Regions from separate parts of the Homo sapiens genome. Here all the other regions are linked to region 1. Evidence: fine-mapped expression QTL. A gene starts in region 1. Each other region holds a variant in brackets. All regions are shown on one strand. Distances are from middle to middle.

Region 1 (4,498 bases):
CCAATTCTTTGCCTTTTTTAGCTTCCAGAGGCCACCTGCATTTCTTGGCTCATGGCCCCTTTGTATTCAAGGCCAGTAGCACGGTATCTTCACACCTCTCTCTCTGACCTCTGCTTCTGCTGTCACACCTCCTTCTCTGACTCTGACTCTCTCCTGCTTCCCTCTTTCCCTTATGAGGACTCATGTCATTATACTGGGCCCACCTGGACCATCCAGGATAATCTCCCTACAGGAGCATAGGCTCTGCAAGATCTAAGTCCCTTTTGCCATGTCAGGTAATATATTTAGAGGTTGTGGGGATTGGGAGGTGGACATCTCAAGGGGGCACTATTCTGTCTACTGTAGTCGTAGAAATGAAAAGGGACTTGCCCAAGAGTACCCACAGAGCTGACTGAAAAGAAACAACTATGGGTAGGCTCACACCACTGGCAGAAGCACCCCTTTTCCTCCTCCTTGGCATGAAGCTAAAGCCCAGCCATTCTCCAAGGTCCATTTCAGGCTGCCCCTGCCCAGAAGCCACAGCTGCCCTCCTAGGCCTGCAGAGGTCATCCTCTTGACTGTGTCTGTGTCACTCATTGCCACTTGGCACACATTTGGTCAGCAGTCGTGAAGGTCTTCCATTGTTCTCTGCCCAGTCTTGATCCTGGAAGGCAAGGATCACACCCTAGAACTTTTTTGTGCCCACTGCACAGAGTAGGGTCTCAATACGTGTACGGTTCATGATGTTCCTAGCAGATTCTCCAAACTGACTCACTCAGCCCCTGGAACACTAAAAACTGCATTTCCCAGACTCCTTTGCAGCGTGGGCTAGGTTCCACCAAGCCAGACACAGTGAAAGTGAGTGGGTGGCCACAGGTGGAGGGCACAGTGGTGGATATGTTTTGTTCTTTTGGGGGCAGCTATGCTGGGGGCTGCACTAAGTGATGGGGCAGTGGTCCCAATGGAGTAGTAAAATTAAGTGTTTCTCGTGGCTGCATGGCTCCTGGCTGTGTAGGACTTAGACCCGTCATCTGTAAGCTCCTTCACCTCATGTAAACAAAACCCCTCTAGCTGGAGTGGTGTCTATTGTCTGCGACTAAGAACCCTTATATAAGGTATACTACTCCCCAACCCCATTAGTGGAAATCCCAAAGGGTAGGAACTGTATTTTATTTCACTTGTAAACAGCTCCCCTAGTAAGCATGTCAACAAAATATACACAATTCATTGAACCCCATAACATTTCAACGAATTCCTCATCCTTTCTGTGAATCAAGAGCCTGAAAAGAAATGGTGAAATAATATGATCCTCTCTTCTTTGAAAGCTCAAAGCTATGTTGGACCAGAAGTAAAGTGTTCTCGTTTCTATTTAATAACTTGAAAGGTTCCGAGGGGCCATTGAGGAAACTCCTCCCTTTTAATATCAATGTGTATTTATTGCAAAAATAATGTAGCATCGAGTGGTATTTTATAGCTTATCCAAAAACCTCCTGGGTTTAACGCATTGTGATAGTCCCGTTTTCTTCTCAGCCCAGGTCCTATGCATCCTCATCTATGCAGGGCTGTTATCTGCATATAATTTTTTTTTTTTTTAAGACAAAGTCTTGCTCTGTCGCCCCGGCTGGAGTGCAGTGGTGCAATCTCGGCTCACTGCAACCTCCGCCTCCCAGGTTCAAGCGGTTCTTCCGCCTCAGCCTACCGAGTAGCTGGGACTACAGGCATGCGCCACCACACCTAGGTGATTTTTGTATTTTTAGTAGAGACAGGGGTTTCACCATGTTGACCAGGCTGGTCTCGAACTCCTGATCTCAAGCGATCCACCCGCCTCAGCCTCCCAAAGTGCTGGGATTACAGGCATAAGCCACTACGCCCGGCCTCAATTTTGTATTGTACTTTTTCTTTCTTTCTTTAATAGAGACAGGGTCTCACTATGTTGACTAGGTTGGTCTAGAACTCCTGGGCACAAGCTGTCCGCCCGCTTCTGCCTCCCAAAGTGCTGGGATTGCAGGCGTGAACCACCGCCCCTGGCTACAGGTGCCTTCTTGTCTCAATTTGCCTTTGACCTTTCTTAGGGACTTGTTTTCTGCTTTTCCTGCTCTTTGTCCGCTGATCTCCTGGGAAGAAAGCTTCCGAAAAGGACACCGTTTCAGGGGCGAGTGACGCCGGGGTGCCCAGGCCGCGCCCCAGTTCCGGGTTTGCACCCGGTCTTCTTGCCCTGCCCCGCCCGCGGGACTACAGTTCCCAGGCGCCCCTGCGCGGCCGCGGCGCCGGCGCCGGCGTCGGTTGGGACGCGGAGCTGAGGAGCAGGGCCGGGCGCCATGGCACCGTGGGGCAAGCGGCTGGCTGGCGTGCGCGGGGTGCTGCTTGACATCTCGGGCGTGCTGTACGACAGCGGCGCGGGCGGCGGCACGGCCATCGCCGGCTCGGTGGAGGCGGTGGCCAGGTGAGTGGGCCCCGGGACGCCGCTGGGGCCGCCGAGCTCTAAGCTCAGCCCGCTCCCTGGCTGCCGGCAGGGGGCGGGGCGGCAGGGGGCGGGGCCGCGGCGCAGGCCCCGCCTCGGTCTCCCCCTTCCCACCCCGGTGCGCGCACAGTGCTGACCACGGACGACCCCACTGTTGCCCCCGGCGAGCACCAGGACTCTGCTGGTTAGGGCTGCGCGGTCAGACAGGGCGGCCACCTGGTACGTGCGCTGCTGAGCGCTTGACCTGCGGCCAGTCTGAATTGAGATGTGCTGTAAGCGTAAAATGCATACCGATTAACAAGACTTAGCCGGGCGCGGTGGCTCGCATCTGTGATTCTAGCACTTGCAGAGGCAGAGGAGGGAGGATCGCTTGAGGCTAGGGGGTTGGAGACCACCCTGGGCAACATAGGGAGACCCCGTCTCTGCCAAAAATTTAAAAATTAGCCGGGTGTGGTGGTGCACGCCTGTAGGCCCAGCCACTTGGGAGGCTGAGGCAGGAGGATCGCTTGAGCCCAGGAGGTCAAGGCTACAGTGAGCTGTGATCACCCCACTGTACTCTAGCCTGGACTGCAGAGCGAGACGGTCTCATAAACAAAACCCCCAAAAACACCAGACTTCGTGAGTAAAATGTAAAATAAAAACATGAAAATGGGTTATGTTGTTTGCCTGTTGAAATGATATACTTTTTGTTTGTTTTGTTTTGTTCTTTTCAGATGGAGTCTTGCTCTGTCGCCCAGGCTGGAGTGCAATGGCACGATCTCGGCTCACTGCAACCTCCGCCTCCCGGGTGCAAGTGATTCTCCCCCTTCAGGCTCCCGAGTAGCTGGGATTACAGGCACCCGCCATCATGCCCAGTTACTTTTTTTATTTGTTTTGTTTGAGACGGAGTTTTGCTCTTGTTGCCCAGGCTGGAATGCAGTGGTGCAATCTCTGCTGACTGCAACCGCCGCCTCCCAGGTTCAAGCGATTCTCCTGCCTCAGCCTCCTGAATAGCTGGAATTACAGGCATGTGCCACCACACCCGGCTAATTTTTTGTATTTTTAGTAGAGACGGGGTTTCACCATGTTGGGCAGGCTGGTCTCTAACTCCTGACCTCAGGTGATCCACCTGCCTCGGCCTCCCAAAGTGCTGGGATTATAGGCGTGAGCCACATGCCCAGTTGATAATATTTTTAATATACTGTTTTAGGTTAAAATATTTGAAATTAAGTATACCTTTTTTTTTTAACTTTTGTTAATGTGCTTATTAGAAAACTTTAAATTACCTTTGTGGCTCTCATTATAATTCTGTTGGACTGCATTGGTTTAGGTGAGAGGAGGAGGAAGAGAACATCGTGCCAGCCAAGACTTGACCATGAGGACACTTTTTTTTTTTTGAGACAGTTTTGCTCTTGTTGCCCAGGCCGGAGTGCAGTGGCGCCATCTGGGCTCACTGCAACCTCTGCCTCCCAGGTTCAAGTGATTCTCCTGCCTCAGCCTCCCAAGTATCTGGGATTACAGGCACCCGCCACCACGCCCAGCTAATTTTTGTATTTTTGGTAGACATGGGGTTTCACCATACTGGCTAGGCTGGTCTCGAACTCCTGACCTCAACTGATCCACCTGCCTGGGCCTTCTAAAGTGCTGGGATTACAGGCGTGAGCCACCGCACCTGGCTGACACTTTTCTTTGTATAATTTTTTTTTTTGAGACAAGGTCTCATTATGTTGCCAGGGTGGTCTTGAACTCCTTGGCTCAGGCAGTCCTCCTGCCTTGGTCTCCCAAAGTGCTAGGATTACAGGCATGAGCCACCACACCTGGCCTAATTTTTTTTTCTTTTTTTTTTTTTTTTTTTGAGACAAGGTCTTACTTTGCCACCCAGGCTGGAGTGCAGTGGTTCAATCTCACTGCAACCTCTACCTCAAGGGCTCAAGAGATCCTCCCACCTCAGCCTCCCAAGTAGCTGGAACTACAGGCACGTGCCACCATGCCCAGCTAATTTTTTTGTGTTTTTTGTAGAGATGGGGTTTTGCCATGTTGCCCAGGCCGGTCTTGAACTCCTGGGCTGAAGTGATCTGC
Region 2 (4,498 bases), 160 kb after region 1:
GCCAGCGAGGGTCCATGTCCTCACTGCCGACAAGGCTGGGAACTGGGCCAAGTGAAGCAGAGGCCTCCACGTCAGATGTGAGCGCCACCGGCCCAGGTGACTGCAGTTCTTCCCTCCTTCCGTTCGGCTTGAGCCCTCCAGAGGATCGGAAAGGCTGAGGCCTGACCTGGTGCCGCTGTCCTGGGTGGGTCTGTCCTGCTGGTCGGTTCCTGCCCCTCTCGGGGAGGTTGGCTGGCAGCTGGCAGGTGGAAAGCCTCCTGTGTTCACCTCAGGGCAGAGGTGGGGACACAGGGCGGGACGGGCGAGTGTGGTGCCCCTCTGGGGTGGGTGCTCTTGGGTCCGCCTCCCGTGCCAGAGTGCGTGTCAACAGTTCCAGCTGCCCCTCAGAACTGTCCTGGTTTAGGAGGTGAACACACGGGGCAGCCTACATTCTACGTGGTTTTTTTAACATTATAAAAGCAGCATGTGTTATTACAGGAAATTTAACAGAAGTATATAAAAAGAAACCAGAAGTCACCCGGGAGTCTGAGCACTGTGCTCTCTGGGGCCTTTCCTTTCGGCCTTCTTCCTTCCAGCCCTTTCCCTGCACACTGGACAGAGTGGCTGAGTCTCTCTCGTAAGCCCACAGGGTTATGATCGCTGTGCAGGTAAGGAGACTACACGTGTGCCCCATGTCAGAAGCACCTGTGCCTGGCCTGGGCACTGCACTGGGGGTGAGGCCTGGGGCCAGGCCCCACGTGGGGGCAGAACGGAGCTATCCATCCAGCCAGGGACCTCATCTAGGGATTGGGGGCAGCAAGGGGCTGGTAAGGGCCAGAGGTAATTCCAGGGCCACTCTGTGCCCTACCCTCAGGTGGGGCACAAGGGTGGGGGCACTGCGCTGGGTAGAAGCCCCCCGCCAGCCCCTGGCCCACCAGTCATCTGTCAGATACGGAGGCAGGGGTGAGGGGAGGGTGTGCTGGGGAAGTCAATGCATCCAGCCTCGAATCAGTGAGTCCCTAGGCCTTGGGTAAGGCAGGGCTGCAGGGATGGCAGTGAGGACAAGGGGCTCACCTCCCCCCAGCAGCCCCACTTCACATGTTTGTTTCTTGAGTTCAGTGCTCATAGACTTAAAAAAAAAAAATCTTGCTAAAAGCAAAAACCAAAAGAAAAGCGGGGGCTACAGAGCCTCATTCCCAGAGGGGCTGCTCTGGCCCTAACAAGCATTCTAGGCCAGACTTCCATGGGCAGATTGTGTGGGCAAGTGTTGAGTTATGGAAATCAAGCAAACCTCTCCACGCCTGTCCTCCAGGCCGCAAACACGCCCTTCTCCTGAGTCCGGGTAAGCAGAGGGCCATGCACGGGAGACAGTGGGCCACGCCGGGCTGGGCTTCGTGCTTCTGGGGCCCCCGCAACTCACTCACGCAGCAGAAGTCTGCACTGTGCTGCCTGCAGCGGGGGCAGAAACCCGGAGCCAGTGAGCCTGTCTGTGCCACCTCAGCTACCCTGGTGGGTGGGTGGTGGGGGCCATCCCAGGCCCCTCAGGGCTGCAGGCCAGGCTGGGCCCATCTCCGCACGCTGCTGTGTGGCCTCACCTCCCAGCGCTGTCGAAGGCTGAGCTGCTGTGCTCGGAAGGGCAGACTCCTCCATGGCTTCTAACTCAAGTGACACAAGGAGTGTCTCCCCACTGCTGTCCTGGGGCTCCTGGCCCTAGAAGGGCTCCCCATGATGCAGCTGTGGCCATGGGCAGCCTTCCCCCGTCCCCCGGCGTCTCCACAGCTCTGTGATGTCTGCTAGCCCCATTTTATCGATTCAGACCCCGAGGCTTGGAGGGGACAGAAGGGTCCAGTCTAGGTCTCTCTGCGCCCAGAGCTAATGCTCCTGTGAGCAGGGGGGACCTGCCAGTTCACCACACCCAACAGAAACCACACAGCTGGCACCAGGCACTTGGGTATTGAACCAGGAAGCTTTATTTACACAGTACAAGTAACAAGCAAATTCCTGAGAGACTAGAGCGGCTGGAGTGCAAGCCACAGCCTGTGCGGGGAGGCCAGGCTGCAGGGGCGGGCAGACCCTGGGCCCCGGGTCTACGCTTTCTGGTCGCCACACTTCCTGAAGCACGGCAACACCCACAACATCCAGCTCAGGGAAGCCCCTGCAGCCCCAGAAACAGCCTATGTGCTATCTGTCGCCCCAGCCCCCAGGACAGCTTCCCCACACACTGAAAACACAAATCATTTGCCAAAAAGACTATGCTAGAAGGTCAGACTATCCTATCTAGGCTACAAGATCTCCACTTCGGTCTGCCATTAAAAAAAAAAAAAATCTTTCTCTTCTTTTCTCTTTAAAGAGGCATGACAGAGGGGTTTGACCAACAGCGTGGACATGGCAAGGTGTGGCATCATTGCCAGTGTGGGGCCAGAGGGTGCCCGAGCCC[C/T]GGTGCGCGGCCAGCCTGCTGCATCCCTGCCGGCTGACGTCTGGAGTGACCGTCATTCCAGTGACCACCCCCATAGCCACAGACGGCACGTCAGTGGAAACGGGGGTGCAGCAGGCATGACACCAAGGCAGAGCCCGCAGCAGGGGGCCCGGGGTTCCACAGCTAGGGAAGCTTGCTCAGACAGGCAGCACACCCAGGGCACGGCCACTCACGCCCCCGCACCAGGAGACCCATTTGGAAGTTAGTTAGGGTTTGTTTTGTTTTCTTTTTAATGTGGACTTCCCCTTTATTTAAATTTTCTTTCAGTGTACAAATTCACAAAACTGGCTACAAAAATTTGGTTGAAAAGTAAGGCTTTCTGAGAATGAAAATCTGTACGTCTGGTCAGAACAAGCTCCCCACGGGCCCAGGTGCACGTCTGCCCGTGCAAATCCGGCCTCCACCGCGAGTAAGGCAAGAGGGTATGGCAACGAAAATGGCAAGGCTGTGGCCCCAGCCCCTGGGCCCCACGGGTGGACGGCAGCCCCTGGCAGTTTGGTGGCTTTGGAATGAGTGGGGTGCATGTGGCACTAAGCCCCCCCCACCGCCCCGGCTTTCCTGCAGGCTTAGCCCGCGCTTTAGGACCCCATGAGCAGGCAGATGGCCTGGCACGGCTTGCTTCTGGCTCTGCCCTTCCTCAGTCTCCCCTCAGAGGCAGGGTTTGTGGGCAAGGCTGTGACAAAAGTAAGGCTCCTGCCACTGCCCCCAGCTGGGGCCATCATGCTGGTGGGGGTGAGCTGTCTGCCTGCTGCCCATGGGGACACCAATGTGGGGGGCACCTCCTAGGCGAACCTCCCTCCCAGAGGACTGAGATCAGAAGTCCTGGGGCCAGCAGGGTGGAGTGCAGGAACAGGCTGCTCCGGGCAGTGTGGCAGCTTGGATGATGGGGTGGCACCTTATAGATAGGGTCTACTCCCTCCAGTCAAAACACAAACATGAAACCAGCTAAAGGCCATTTCTTTCTCTAAGCAGAAGGGATAGCCACCATTTTCTCCCCTGACTGCTGCGTGGTGGGCACAGGACAGGCAGGCGGGGTCTGAGGAGGCTGGGTCATTTCTCCCTAAGCGCCCTGGGGCTGGGCTTGCTGGTCGATGGGACCAGCTTGCGGGGAGGTGGGGAGGTGGCTGTGACTCAGCCAGCTCCACAGCTTGTCCCTTCCTGCCACCAGGCCTGAATGGGGAGGTGGCAGGCAAGGTTTGAGGGCAGGTCACCCACACCCCAGTCCCACGACATATACCTGTCACCATGTGCCTCCCACCCCAGCCCTAAGCAAAGGTAGCTGGGGGCTGCTGCATGCCTCAGCCTCAGCTGGCACCGTCCACCTCCCTCACTGCCTCTGCCTTCCACAGGAAGGCCTGCTATAGAGGCTGTGTGCCCTCGGCCACACCGGGCATGTGGTGCCAGGACCCCCCACGCCCAGTGGTACTCCGGGGGCAAGACATGGCCATGTGCTCTCCACATTCACCCAACAACTGCCCTGGCCGCCTCCACATTTGCTCTAAGAAGACATGGTCTCCATGACCCCCAGGCAGGGACAGGCCAAGATGTCTCTGTCTGCTCAGAGCCACCAGCTCTTGGGTTCGGCTGTCCGGGATCACAAGTAGACATGCCTCCGGCAGGAGCTACAGCAACCAGAGGTGAGCTGGTTCCCCGGCTCTGGGACCTGCCCAGTGCCCGGCATACCCCATGTGTCAGCCACCTGAGCTAGCAACACCATCTCTCAGGGCTGTGGGGCTGGGGGCTTTCTGCCAGCTCCTTAAAGCTGATTTTTAAGAAGTGCCACCCACATATTGGGAACTTGAACCACCATCCTTTTGATGTAGTAAAAAAATAAGATTTAAACAACGTTTCCCAAAAAGCATCTTTCTTGAGGAGAAAGAAGGTGAGAAGCATCTGGACTCAACCTGCAGAAGCGAGGCGTTCACTCGTCCATGAAGACGAGCAAAAGCAAAGTGACTACAAAAGTGCTTTGAACGCGCGTGTCAGCCAACACAAGGGAGCGCACCAGTTATTTTTAGCCTTATGGGAAAATGAGCCACTTGC
Region 3 (4,498 bases), 130 kb after region 1:
GGTGGAGCTGGGGCTGAAGGCCGTGATAAACACAGCCTCACCCTGGCATTGCCCACCTCCACTGGCCACCAGCTTTGACGGACAGCCCCACTGCCACTGCCCCTCTCCAGGCAGGCCACATTCACAGGTGTTCTGTACAGAGAGCAGAAGTTTGAGAAAACGTGACCCACTGAACAGACACTTGCTGAGGCCCGGGGGCTTCATGTGTCAGGCCCAGAGGTGGCCACAGGCACAACACGCGTCCCTCAGCCTTGCCACCTCTGCTGCCCTCCAAGGTGCCCTGGGTCCAGCTGGCCAGAAGCACTGCTTTCTGGAGCAGCCACTTATGCTTTTACTTTTTTCTCTTCTTTTTTTTTTTAAGACTGAGTCTTGCTCTGTTGCCCAGGCTGGAGTGCAGTGGCACAATCTTGGCTCACTGCATTCTCCAGTTCAAGTGATTCTCCTGCCTCAGCCTCCTGAGTAGCTGAGATTACAGGCATCTGCCACCATGCCCGGCTAATTTTTGTATTTTTAGTAGAGATGGAATTTCGCCATGTTGACCAGACTAGTCTTGAACTCCTGACCCCAAGTGATCCGCCCGCCCAAAGTGCTGGGATTACAGGCGTGAGCCACAGTGCCCGGCCCAGCTTTTTCATTTTGAAATCAATACAAGTTTTTACAGATGTCTGCAAAAAATATCCATATTGATGGATCCTGGCTCCTCAGAATCTGAGGTTTTTACAAATGTCTGCAAAAAATATCCATATTGATGGATCCTGGCTCCTCAGAATCTGAGGTGACAGCAGCTTGCAGAGGACACTGCTCCCCCAACACTGCCTTCCAAGGGAGACATGCCCTACCCCAAGGCCTCCCTTGTCCCCTCCCTCCTCTGACAGTCAGGTCCAGGGGGTCCTGGAGAGGGCACTGGCCCACCCTCCACACATGTTGCACAGTGCCCTGGGAATGAGGAAGGAAGGGCAAAGGTTAGGGAAAACCAGACGTCAGTTTCTTGACCAGCCACAGCCGGTGCAGCGCGGTTATTTATAGCCCTGGTGGAGCGCCCATAAATCAAGGCTTTCCCCAGCAGCGCGGCTGTGAGGGCTCCGAGATGATCTCATGGTGCCCCTCCCTTGAACCATCCCAGAGAAAGGAGGCCTGTCACCTTCAAGGACCAATGCTTCTGCCGGGACTCAAGCAGAACCTGTTCCTGCTGCTGCAAGGTTTACAGGCAGCCTTGGGGACAGTCCGTGCAGAAATGTCAGGAGCCTTTTCCTGCATAAGGCATCTCAGAGCTTATAGCACCTCCTTGGCGGTGGCCGTGCTCGCAGCCTGATACATGGGACCTCTGTCTCACTTGCAGTGTGCACCGCAGGTCCTAATTCCTTATCTGTTCCAACCACAAAAGCTTCCACTGCTGGATGGAGCCCTGTTATCATTCAGGCTTCTGAGCCACCTGGAAGGCAAAGGCCTCTCTGTGAAAATGAAAACTTGGCTTTAAAAAGCTGGCATGGGCTCAGCCATGGAGTTGCTTAGATGTAGTTCACAATCTCGCAGACCCACGGCAGGATTCCACCCAGGAGAAGGTCCTGGAGGTGGCCATGGGGCTCAGCAGAATGAGCCGGGAGGAGCAGGACTGTTGACACGAGAGCAGGGGTCAGGCTCAGTGCACAGGTCCCAGTGTGCAGAGCTCACCCGGCCCCAGCTTTCATCACCCATCTGAGATCGGCCTCCTTCACTCCTGTTCTCTGGGACTTCCTTGTGTGTTAGAGACTCGAGCAAGACCCTTTCTTGTCTATCCCCGGACGGACCCGCCTTTCCCGCATCTCTGGGGGTGAGGTCGGCTCTCGTTCAGGCCTGCAGGGTCCCTGGTGCCGCAGCCCCTCTGGTTGGAAGGCCCCCTGCGTGCAGCCCCGTCCTCCAGCCCCGCTCGGCTCTGAATGAGTTCATTATGTCTCAGCGCGCCCTGGCCGCCAGGCTGGCAGTTCTTCGGGCTGGCGGGGCTCGGGAGCTGTCAGCCTGCCAAATCCAGTTGTTTGACTTCATGTTTCAAGGCCAAATCCTTTCAGGAAAGTTCTCTCCATCCCACCACTCCACCGCCCCCCGCCCTTAGAAAAATAAATGCGTGATTGACTGGCTTTGCAGGTTTTTTATCCATCGTTCTTTCCAAAGAATAGTGTGAACAGCTCATTCGATTCGTTCATGTG[A/G]CGTCCTCCCTCTCCCAATCCCTGTCTCTCTCTCTCCTTCCACAGCCACATGAAATTGAAGTGGGAGAACATGGTGTGTGAGCATTATTGGGGGTGGGGTGCGGAGCAGGCACTGGCTTTGGTTGAGGTCTGCAAAGGAAAGCACCCCCACTGCCAGGCTGCTCAGGAGTGGCTCCCACCCTCGACTGCGGGGAAGTGCTGGAACCCTCCGCACGAGGGCAACCTTTCTTGGGCTCTGAAGGCGCCTCTCATCCTCTGAGCCAAGAAGACTTCTGACCCAGAATTCTGAGTTGAGTTCCGACGCAGGCGTGGGCGATGGTGAGCAACTCCAGGCTACCCCGAGAAAGCCGCTGTGTGACCCCATTAGGGGACTTGGCTCTCCTGCCAAGCCCCCACCCAGCACCTGTCCCTTGTGTCATGACTGGACTTGTTACTTCTAGCCCAGGAGCTCCAGGTGAAGGGGACTGTGTTGGTCCTGTCTGCCCAGGACTCTCCCCACCCGCACAGTGTACCTGTCCCACAGTGGCACCAACAAGGCTCAGCTGAGCCCTTGCCAGAGGAGACACGGTGGGCACCAGCCCCAGCGCTGCCACCTGCCTGCCTCCTCTGCCACCGAGGGAAGCCATGTCGCCTTCCTGAGCCTGCTTCTCTGTCCACAAAACAAAGACTAGATAATTAGAGTGCACACTTGGAGGGACAGGATGGCTTCGTATCCATCTGGCTGTGCCCTGTAACTCAAGGGATGGGACTGTGTCATTGGTAAACACTGCAACAGGCCTCCTTTCCAGGAAACAGGATCCCTGTCTCAGACAGAAGCAGTCTCGCCCATCCTGGGGCCTGAGAGCATCATTCCTTTGTGAGACTCAAATGTGAGGAATTCCTGTTTCCTCAAGTCTGTGTGGGGAGTGCAGAGCAGCCCTCTGAGGGGGTAGCGTGTGCAGGAAATAAGCCGGGGGGAAGGGGGCACCGCGGGTGGGTGTTAACTGCTGCTTCGGGGTCCAGTCCTGTTAATGAAAGCAGGGGTGAGGCAAGCGGGGAAGACTCTCTGTACCTGATCAGTGGCATGTGTGTGGCTCCAGCCGGCATGGCCTGAGCTGCCGGTGAGGGAGAGGCCTCAGGGAGAAAAGACAAAAGCTGGGGTGCCCCTGAAGGTGGGGCAGAGCTGGGGCAGTCAGGGGCTCTTCCACAGGTGCAGGCCTGGTGCTGGAGGACACAGTCCATACCACCTCCAACCCCCACCACCTCCCCTGCCATGGACAGTGTGGGGCAGGCTCCTGAGGATGAGGCAGCCTGACCCCTACCCCTGGGCTGTCCCCCCGACTCCTGGTTTCTCTGGAAGCCTGGGGTTCCAGGCCATGCAGGTAGAGAACAACAGGTTTAGGACAAAGTCATTGTGGACACTGAGGCCCAGAAAAGGGACTTGCCCAAGGCCACACAGCAGGTGGCCAGCACTGTGTCCGTGTCTCTGTTATTCCTTCCTCTGCTTGCTTTGGGTTTATTTTGTGCTCCTTTTCTACTTCCTTAAGATGGGAGCTTCAGTGATCAATTTCAGATCTTTCCTCTCTTCTAACAAGCATTTGGTACTATGAATTTCCCTCTGAATCCTGCTTCAGCTGCATCCCAACTTCTGATACCAGGTAGGAGTAATTGTTCTAAGCTCCGCAGCTGACTACAGAGAGCGGCCACATTTGAGAAACATTCTCATCTCTCTGATCTTGGGTCTCTGACAATGGAGCTAGCAACACTTCCTGGTTTTAAGGGCTCTGAGGAGCAAATTAGACTGTCTGGTGGTGAAGAACTTTGTTTAGGAACAATTTAAGATGCCAACAGGTTCATCTGCTCTCCTGCCTCCTTCTCCCCACCTTGTAACACACCCTAGACAAGTCAGCACTCAAGTTTATATGGACAAATAAGCAAGTAAAATTAGTTAGGAAATCAAATATTGGGGTTGGGGAACAATAAGAGAAGGCAAGCCCTATGGGATGGTAAACTGCAGTATAAAGCCCCATTTGCTGGCACAGTGTGGTCTGGCCTGTGACTAGGTGAGGGACAGTGCGGGGTGGCCTGCCTGCATATGCCAGGTTCTGTGTATCACATCTCTCACCAGGAAGGCAAAACCTGGCAGATGGCACCCGGGCCTGATGGCTCCTCAACCCTCTCAGCACCCCAAAGAGGGAAGTCCCATCACCCTCACTCACCCAGCCCCGGGCTGGCCCTGTCAGCTCTCGAACTGCAGCATACCCGAGCTCTTAAAGCACACTGGACCTAGGGCTCAGGTTTGAGCTTTCATGATGAGACCCTGAGGTCACTGGCGG
Region 4 (4,498 bases), 80 kb after region 1:
GCTCGAGACCGCCTCTACTAAAAATACAAAAATTAGCCAGGCGTGGTGGCTCACGCCTGTAATCTCAGCTACTCGGGTGGCTGAGGCAGGAGAATCACTTGAACCTGGGAAGTAGAGGTTGCAGTGAGCTGAGATCGTGCCACTGCACTCTAGCCTGGGCGACAGAGCAAAACCCTGTCTCAAAAAAAAAAAAAAAAATTAGTCAGGCATGGTGGCACACACCTGTAGTCCCAGCTACTCAGGAGGCTGAGGTGGGAGGATTGTTTGAGCCCAGAAGGTTGAGGCTGCATTGAGCTGAGATTGCACCACTGCACTCCAGCCTGGGCGACAGAGCGAGACCCTGTCTCAAAAAAATAAAATAGACATAATAAGAGTACCTACCACCTACGGCTGGGGAGACCAGAATGAGATATCCTGCCAAAAGCACTCACCGCACTTCCTGGCACACAGCAAGGGTTCAGCAGTTACCCGCTTCTGCTCATTTTCTTGGTGTTCTCATCAGTATGATTATTTAGGGAAACTTGGGTCCCCAGATAACCGTGGGGAGGGGAGGGTTTACCTGCAGGTGCCCTGGCCCAGCCGTTCATGCAGCGCCGTGCTGTTTCTGTGTCTGTGCGCTTCGGTGGAGATGCTGTGGGTGGGTGGGCAGGTGTGCCTTGTGCTGTGGCCTCCCGAGACAAGGAGGGCTCCCACCTAAGCAGGGTCCTGCAGCCCAGGCACATAGCCCTGCCCTGGCCCTCCAGGTCCACACGGCTGTGGGTTCCCACCAGGGGGCGGCAGGGACTTGCGGCCGGGGACCCAGCCTGGTTTCTCCCGCTTTGCTTCGTGGCCAGGCTAGGGCCAGGGGGGCTGCGCAGGATGGGGCCTTTTCACCACTGCCTGGAGCCGCTCGCCCACCAACCCCACTGACGGCTCTCAGTTTCCCTTTCCCCGAGCGCCCTTCACCCTGAGGCACAGCACAGCCTCGTGCTCCTGGCCCCACTGGCCTGCTCCCTTAAGCTGAGTTTTGCCTTTGCAGTTTGAGTGACATTTTTGCTGGGGATCCGGGGCTGCTCGGGGTGGCCTCGCACACCCCTGCACTTTGGCTGCCTGGAACGTGGCTTGGGGTTCACGGTGCTCCATGGTTTGACTCACAGGCAGGGTTCCAGCAGCAGCAGAGAGAAAGAGCATCTTCTCCAGCCGGCCCTACAGAGGCCCCGGGACCCCAAAGGCTGCACTGAGGTGGCCACCAAAACCAGGGGGCAGAGTCCTCCTAAGTTCTGGCCCTAGATCTAGGCTCCAGATCTCCCGGGAGTTGGATCCAGAGGAACCTGGGCTCACTTCTTTAGCAGGTTCTGGACACACGATGCCTTTAGGGGCTCAAGAAAATGTTTAATTTATTTTAAAATTAGAAGGAAAATATCTCTGGAACATTTAGGGCCAAAGAAAATGTTTTAATGTTTTTTCTCACTTTAGAAATAATAATTCAAAAATCCATTAAATTATTTAACAGCTTTTTTAATGGAGGAAGGGGCCCCCCAAATCACAAAGTGGCCCTGGGCCCTGGGATGGCCGGAGGAGAGCCTGCCATACCCACGCAGTGTGCCTGAGTCCTGGAGTGCGATGTATTCTGAGCCACCCAGAATGGTGAGTCACCAAGAGGCAGCTTGGAGGTGGGCCGCTGCCCCTGCACACTGTGCTTGGGGGACACAGCCGACACGACCAGCCTGCAGTACCAGGATAGACAATTTGGGCTGGAGCCAAACTTGATCAGAGGGAGGCTGACTTTATCGAGGGCTGCTTTGTGGCGGGCGTTCATTGTGGAAAGAGCCCAGGAAGGAGCTCTCTGCCTTGCAAGAACATTGCCTGTGGCTCAAAATGGCCACATGGGATGCAGTTCCTGAGGTGGCAGAAGAGCCAGCCTCTGCTAGCCCCAGACCTAACGGAGTTGCGGCTCATGGCCACCCTGAGGAATTCCACCTGGGCGTTTGGTGTCCCTAGCATATCTCGAATGGCAGGCTGAGGCTCGAAAGTCTCATGCCTGTCTGCAGGACCCCCGCGTGAGCCTGGGACCACCCGTGGGGACAGTGTGTGTCTAGGCAAATGCCTTGGGCACTCGAGGGGGCACTGAGGCCCTGGAGGGCTTCTGTGGGTGGGAGTTCCCATGACGTCATCCCTCAGTACAAGCTACGAGGGCTTCTTAGAACACGCTGGACACTGGGGAGGGCTCTAATGGTATTTGCACAAATTTGCAATGTTGGAGACCAGAGTGGAGTGGGCTGGGCGGGCCAGGCCCCGGCCCAGATGGGGTGACCTTTCCTTCACCCCTACTTCCCCACTGCAAGGGTGCTGCCTCCCCAGCTCCTACCTGGGGAGATGCTGACATCTGGTCATTCGCAGAGTGCCCTGTGCCCACATGCTGTCCCTGTCCAGACATGAAACGGACAGCAGGAGGGGGCTTTGAGGGGTCTCTCCTGAGACACCTCTC[C/G]AGCTGAGGCTCCTGGAGTTGGAAGCCCCTGCAGACTCGGTGGCTGCCTCACCAAAGGCTCCATCTGCATTTGCCCCCATGACCTTCCCACTGTGCCTGGGACCGCAGTTAGAGCTGACCAGCACCTGGGGCAGTCTGGGGTCTGGGGCTGGCGTTCGGGCCAGCATGGAACACAGATGCCTTCAGTGGCTCTGGTGGGCACGGGGCTTGCACAGATCGGACTGTGACCCCAGGCTGTGGGACTCAGCCACCAAGCGCCTTCACTTATTTACTGACCTTGAAGTTATCCAGCACTTATGTGTTTACAGATACCTGCACAACAGCCAGAGAGGTACGAATACATCTCCACCTACAGGTGAGGGCACAGAGAGGTTAGGACCCACCTGAGGGGATGCAGCCAGCAGGTGGGACTTGGGCCCTGGCAGTCTGTTTCCAGCCTGTGTGCTCAGGTCCAGGGTCTCCCTGGGACTGGAGAGGGCGCTGGGGGAATGGAGCCGCCTCCTGCATCAGAGCTTCTCCTGCTCCAGTTCAGCCTGCAGCTCTCCTGCATCCCCAGGTGGGGACCAGAGAGAGGGGCAGGCTGGTACCAGCCTGGGGGAGGGGGCAGTTACCAGAAGACCTTGGTCCCCATCCCAGCCCTGTGCACCCTGGGGCCCAGCCAGGCTGGAGGCCCATTTTTCCCAGAAGCCCACCTCTCTGCCTCCTTCCAGGGGCTCACCCCGCCCTGCTGCCTCTTCTTGATCGCCTCCTTGCCCCTACTCTCCCCTCTGCCCTCTCGCCTCCCCTCACGTTCATGGGGTTTTGTGGACGCGCCTGCCTGCCTTTCATCAGTGGTGTCCAGCCGTCTCCCTGACCGAGGCTGAGGGTCCTGCACATCTAGGCCCCGTCACGGTCGTTCTCCCCGGTCCCTGCCTGCCCATGGCTCTTGCCACAGTGGGGATGCAGCAGCTCTGGGTTGAGTGTCTGTCGTTGCCCCTGCACTGCGTGTGCCCTGTGAGTGGGGGCTGCTGTGCCACACCTCACTGCCACCCATGCCCATCTCAGGGTGTGGGCCCAGCGGGTCCTCAGGCTGTACCTGTCAGGGGGCTGGATACCTGGACAGGGCCTTGTCCGAGGGTTGACTGGGAGAGAAAATGCCCCCGTTCCAGCTCGGGCAGTACAAGCCTTCATCCTCCCAGACTCCACCTCCCTGGCTGCTCCTTCCTGTATGGCCCCCACAGGGGTTGGCAGGGCGCACTCCCCAGAGGGACAGGAGTTTGTGGCCAACCTGAGGGTAGACACTGCCTGTCCTCCAGACCCCTAGACACCCCCGGTCGGCCCAGGTGCGGGGTCTGCCCGCATCCCACAGCCATCTTTCCAGCGAGGACAGTGCAGGCGCAGGTGGCTGTACCGTGGCTGCGGTGATGTGCTGACTGGGAACGGCAGAGGTGCCCTGGGAAGGCGGAGGTCTGGGAGCCCCACAAGGGCTGAGCCTTGGGGCCTCAAAACAGGGAGTCTTCTCTGGGCTCAGGGCCTTTCTGGAGATGGGACTTCTAGGTTGCCAGGGCCACTAGCCGTGAGGAGTTCAGCTGCCCATGGTGGCGGCGGCTGGGCTGTATCTTGCACTTCTCAGCTGTGTGGAGGGGTCCGTGGGGCCTGTCTGGGCCCAGCACAGCAGCGCACAGAAAAGCCACTTTATATATTTGGGATTCTATTAATCCTTCTAGTTTGTACATTTTTTATGGCACCTTCAATTTTTTTCTTTTAAAAATTAATATATTTTTTTTTCTGATAATATAAGAAATGCATGCCTTCTTTGGAAAATACAGAAAATCACAAAGAAAATAATCCACAATCCCACCTTCCAAAAGGAACCACAGTTAGCATTTTGTTCAGCCTGTTTTTTAAAAAACAAACAAACAAAAAATGCATACTAAAAGCAACGATTTATAAACTGTGGTTGTAGAGTTAAGCTCATACCCAGAGTTGCCGGCATCTCACCAGTTCCTCTCCTGGGACAGTGATTGTGCCTTCCCAGAGCTGCCGCACCCT
Region 5 (4,498 bases), 92 kb after region 1:
GCCTCCCCACTGAGCACAGGCACGTCCATCCCCTCCCCTTCTCCACCTGTCACCTGTCTGTCTTCCAGGCTTCGTGGGACTTCCCAGTGCCCCATTCCTGCTTGTCAGAAGAGGGGCTGGGAGAATGGCAGGGCCTGGCACTCCAGGCTGCCCCTGCCCTCCTGCGCTCTTGCCCTCCAGCCTTTCCCCACCCTGGAAGTGAGTTCATGATGTTAATGGCAGCAGCAGCCATGGTGCACCAGGCACTCTGCTAAGCACTTTATGTACATTCTTAAATTACCGGATCCCCATTACGGAAACGGAGTCTTAGGTTGAAAAACTACTTGACCAAGGTCATCCCAGCTGTAAGTGGCAGAGCAGGCCCTGAATCCAGGCAACCCAGGCTGATCACCACCCTGCCACCACCCACCCCTCTCTCACATACAGGCTCTAGGCCTCCTGTCTATACTGGAATCCCCCACAGCAGATCCACATGGAGCTGTCTAAAGAAGCACCTGCCCCTCCCCCAGACAAGGCAAGAAAGCCATCTCTACCTGGAGGGAGAGCAGTGAGGGGCATCATTAATGGGCTGTTGGGTGTCCTGATTTCTTTGAGAGAAGACGAGCTGAGCAGGCACAGCTCTTAATCCTCCAGCCACTGCCCCCCAGGCTGGGGCCTGCCAGCCCCCGCCCCTGTAGTCATTTCTAAATCGGGTCTAGATGGACTGGACGCGTGGCTGCCAGAGACCATTTGAACCCCCTACCTCCAAATTCCCCAAGGTCCCCGCCTGCAAAGGACCAGCCCCAGCATGAGGCCCTGAAAGTGGCAACATTTCAATAGCCTATCCTGGACAATCAGGACGATCCCTTTACTAATTTATATGCTATACGTTTGGGGTTTAATTGGAGCGTAATTGTAATCCATATGCTGTTAAGGTAATTACACTTATAAACCTAATATAATCCATAGATCAATGGGTTTGGAGCTAATTAAGGCAACCGTAATTAACATTTACCAAAAACCTTGCAATTACTGGAATATCCTTTAAGCTGGCCTTCCGAGCTGATAATGAGCGCCGCTCAGCGCTCCGCGGCCTCCTAGCGTGTCTTTATTCTGCACAAGGGGGCCTTCTGGGGACCTCGATGTTGGGAGGGCAGTCAGTGCCTGCTTTTAGCACCCAGGGACTCTGATCAGGGACCCAGCTGATGAGTGGCAGCACCATGGGAAGCCAGGTCCCTGTGACTTGGCCATCCCCAGAACACGGCTGATTTTCTGGCTCAATAGACTCAGCCTGACAAAGGGGAACTTGGAGAAAGAGAACAAGAAATCCATATGCTGAGCTGGGACAGAACCCAAGTGGGGTTCTCATGTGGGGAGCATATGGGGCTTTCCTCCTGCCCACCCCCTGCACCTGCAGCCAGGATGCACCTGAGCTCGGACTGCCCTGAAACCCCAGGAAAATCCCAACAGCGGCACCATAGGGCCAGGATTACAGCCATTCTTTTTTTTTTTTTTTTTTTTTTTTTTTGAGACGGAGTCTCGCTCTGTCGCCCAGGCTGGAGTGCCGTGGCACAATCTCAGCTCACTGCAAGCTCCGCCTCCCGGGTTCACGCCATTCTCCTGCCTCAGCCTCCCGAGTAGCTGGGACTACAGGTGCCCGCCACCACGCCTGGCTAATTTTTTGTATTTTTTAGTAGAGACAGGGTTTCACCGTGTTAGCCAGGATGGTCTCGATCTCCTGACCTTGTGATCCGCCCGCCTCGGCCTCCCAAAGTGCCGGGATTACAGGCGTGAGCCACCACGCCCGGCCTACAGCCATTCTTGAATGTTGTATGACTCCCGGTGATATTGTCACCTTGGGAGCTGCACAGAGACCTCCCCCGGGCCAGGCCCCTCCTCTGTCTGCAGAAGGAGGTAAGGGGCCCACCACATCTGTCTTACCACAGGCTAAGCTGTTGGCATCTGTTCTTTTCCTGCTCCAGGAGGGACAGAGCCCCCCTGTTGTCCTTGCGGCACCATGCTCTGGGAACTGGGCGCTCCTGTGGACAGCTCCATGTGAGTCTTCTTCGAGAGACTCCACTGCAGATAGAAGAAGGCCTCGAGCCTGTAGTTGCGGGGCGGTGGTCAGCCTGGGCTGCCTGGATTCAGCTCCTGCTCTGACATTTACAGCTGGGACGACCTGGGCCAGGTAGAGGTTTTTCAACCTAAGACTCAGTTTATTATGTATTTATTCATTTATTCATTTTATTTATTTATTGACAGGGTCTTGCTCTGTCACCTAGGCTGGAGTGCAGTGGTGCAATCATGGCTCACTGCAGCCTTGACCTTCTGGACTCAAGTGATCCTCCCACCTCCGCCTCCTGGGTAGGATGCATGCCTGAGGTGGGACTACTGGCATGCACCACCACACCGGCTAGTTTTTAAAATTCTTGCAGAGACAGGGTCTCCCTGTGTGGCCCAGGCTGGTCTTGAACTGGGC[T/C]CAAGTGATCCTCCTGCCTTGGCCTTCCAAAATACTGGGATTACAGGCATGAGCCACTACACCCGGCCTGGACTCAGTTTCTATAATGGGATATGGCAGTTTAATAATGTGCATGCAGTGCTTAGCCTAGTGCCCGGTGCAGAGCCACTGCTTCATTAATGCTGCTGCTGCTGTCCTTGTCATCTCTATCATTGACAGCCCTAGACGAGCTGAAGGGGTGGGCCCAGGTGGGAGGGGCCAGGTGGGCGGGGCCAGGTGGGCTGTCTGCACCTCGCTTACTCCTGGGTGGGCTGTTAGCTTGGCGGGTCCCAGGGCTCACTTTTGCCCCATCATCATTTCTGTACACTTTTTCCATCTCTGGGCCTTAGGGCCTTTCCAAAGACTTTGCAACTCTGGCAGATATTTCTAGACAGAATTAGGTTCTTTAACGAAGGAATGAGGCAAATGTGGACAGGAGATTGTTCATAATTGCGGCTGTCATTTATTGAGCACCTGCTGTGTGCTCTTAGCCTCTGGGCTAAACACTGCACAGACATAATTCACTGATTGCCAACAGCAGCTTTATGCGGCTGGCATTTTAGTCTCACTTTAGGGTGAGGAAACTGAGGCTCAGAGAGGCTGAATCACTGGTTTGAGTACGTCCAGCGAGAGGGCAGCTGGGCCAGGATTTGAAGCCAGCCATTCTCAACACCACTGTGCTCTCTGCCTCCCGAGTGGAGGCCCTGACCCCTTTGCTCTCTTCCTGGGTGGGCCAGTGGGGATGGGTGAGGGGTGAGTGTGTCAATGTTTCCCTCAGCCCAGTAGTGGAGAACAGGCAGGGTGGGCGAACTCCTGGCTGGACCACAGCCACAGGCCTGCAGGAGGCACCCTTGCCAGGGCGAGTGAGCACTGTAGTCTGGGAGACCCTAGAGTGAGATGGGGGCTCTACAAGGCACAGCTCCTCCCTGGAGGAAGGGAGGAAGGGAGGGTCCCTGCCTTACAGGGCCTGGCCCTCCCCACTTGTCCAAAGCCCGGCTGGGTCCTGGTGTGTCAGCGCTTTGCAGTACACCCTGTGCTACCCACCCAACCTGTGTCCCCGTCTGATCTCCCTGGACCCTCCCACAGCCTGGGAAGGGTCCCCCAGCTGTGAGGTCAGCATGGGGGACCTTGCTCTGCAGAGGGCACCTGTAGGGCTGGCCTTATTGGAGTCCCTCCTTTCTAGGCCCACAGTCCTGCGCTGCCTGGTGTGCGGGGCCTGAATGTCATTGTTTCATATATTTTATCTGATTTTCTAGTTGCTTTAAGGTACTTTGTCTATCTTGACTGTTAGGCTCTTTATTTTTCAAAAAAAAATTCAATATAATAGTTTGCATTTTTTCTTATTGATAATAAAACCACTGACATTATTGAGCTCTTGTTCTGGGCTCAGTTCTGCCCCGAGCTGTTTGTACATGTTACCTTGCTGAACCTGCACCCAAGTCCTCAGGCCATATTCCCCCTTACAGATGAATGAAGTCACTGGCCCGAGGTCACACAGCTGGGACGTAGTGCAACCAGGCTGGGCCCTAGCTGGTTGACCCCAGTGCCCACTATTTATTTGGTGCTTACATGCACTGGCTCATTTTGTCTCTACAGCCTTGCAAAGGCCACAGTTATGAGATGGCAGAGGTGGTATTCAAATTCAGGCCCCTAAACTTGTGTCTGTGTTCCCTCTTGAAAACTTCAGTAAACTGAAGAAGTGAAAGGCAGAGGGTAAACCACCGACCAGCCCACCATCCAGAGGTGACGGTGACCTCTGATGCCGCTGGGTGTCCACCTTCCAAACTGTGTGCACAAATGTGTCCTCTGTGTTCTAGTCCACAGGTGAGGTCAGGAGCACAGGCTGTTTTGGGACATCTCTTCCCAGTGCCCAGTTCCAGAACACCCTTCCAAACCACCGTGCATTCTCCGGGGCCATCGTTTTAATGGCTGCACCCTGCTCCCGCGTGTGGACGCATCCTAAACAGTCCCTTAGTATTATGGTTAGATGCTCCATGTGTTTCCAATTCTTCATTATTGTAA

Which allele goes with the higher level. Alleles are on the strand shown, and positions count from the first base shown. SD is a standard deviation of normalised expression in the study named. Not every link is listed here.
As copies of A replace G in region 3, the expression in prefrontal cortex of the gene that starts at base 2,258 in region 1 goes up (small effect, 0.35 SD a copy in ROSMAP).
For the expression in B cells of the gene that starts at base 2,258 in region 1, C is the high allele of the variant in region 5 and T is the other (moderate effect, 0.73 SD a copy in Fairfax 2012).

What was found. PIP is the estimated chance that this variant, and not a neighbour inherited with it, causes the effect.
Region 2: its variant is the best candidate, but not a certain one, in a credible set for the expression of LHPP in whole blood (INTERVAL, PIP 0.57).
Region 3: its variant is the best candidate, but not a certain one, in a credible set for the expression of LHPP in prefrontal cortex (ROSMAP, PIP 0.71).
Region 4: its variant is the best candidate, but not a certain one, in a credible set for the expression of LHPP in anterior cingulate cortex (GTEx, PIP 0.89).
Region 5: its variant is the best candidate, but not a certain one, in a credible set for the expression of LHPP in B cells (Fairfax 2012, PIP 0.52).

The regions. Positions count from the first base shown.
Region 1 is chr10:124,459,566-124,464,063 of GRCh38, forward strand. It overlaps LHPP (phospholysine phosphohistidine inorganic pyrophosphate phosphatase), which reads left to right and starts at 2,258. Exons shown (of 7, transcript NM_022126.4): 1 at 2,258-2,422. The coding sequence starts at 2,298. RefSeq lists a silencer at 2,138-2,597 and an enhancer at 4,114-4,498.
Region 2 is chr10:124,617,366-124,621,863 of GRCh38, forward strand. It overlaps FAM53B (family with sequence similarity 53 member B), which reads right to left. Exons shown (of 5, transcript NM_014661.4): 5 at 1,927-4,498. Among named protein-coding and RNA genes, the nearest start is that of FAM53B-AS1, 84 kb to the right of the region's middle. RefSeq lists enhancers at 2,844-2,973, 4,326-4,498. The variant C/T (reference allele first, on the strand shown) is at 2,417.
Region 3 is chr10:124,587,952-124,592,449 of GRCh38, forward strand. All of the region lies in intron 6 of LHPP (phospholysine phosphohistidine inorganic pyrophosphate phosphatase), which reads left to right. Among named protein-coding and RNA genes, the nearest start is that of FAM53B-AS1, 110 kb to the right of the region's middle. The variant A/G (reference allele first, on the strand shown) is at 2,184.
Region 4 is chr10:124,539,555-124,544,052 of GRCh38, forward strand. The region is part of intron 6 of LHPP (phospholysine phosphohistidine inorganic pyrophosphate phosphatase); the gene reads left to right. Among named protein-coding and RNA genes, the nearest start is that of LHPP, 80 kb to the left of the region's middle. RefSeq lists an enhancer at 283-783. The variant C/G (reference allele first, on the strand shown) is at 2,468.
Region 5 is chr10:124,551,970-124,556,467 of GRCh38, forward strand. The region is part of intron 6 of LHPP (phospholysine phosphohistidine inorganic pyrophosphate phosphatase); the gene reads left to right. Among named protein-coding and RNA genes, the nearest start is that of LHPP, 92 kb to the left of the region's middle. The variant T/C (reference allele first, on the strand shown) is at 2,459.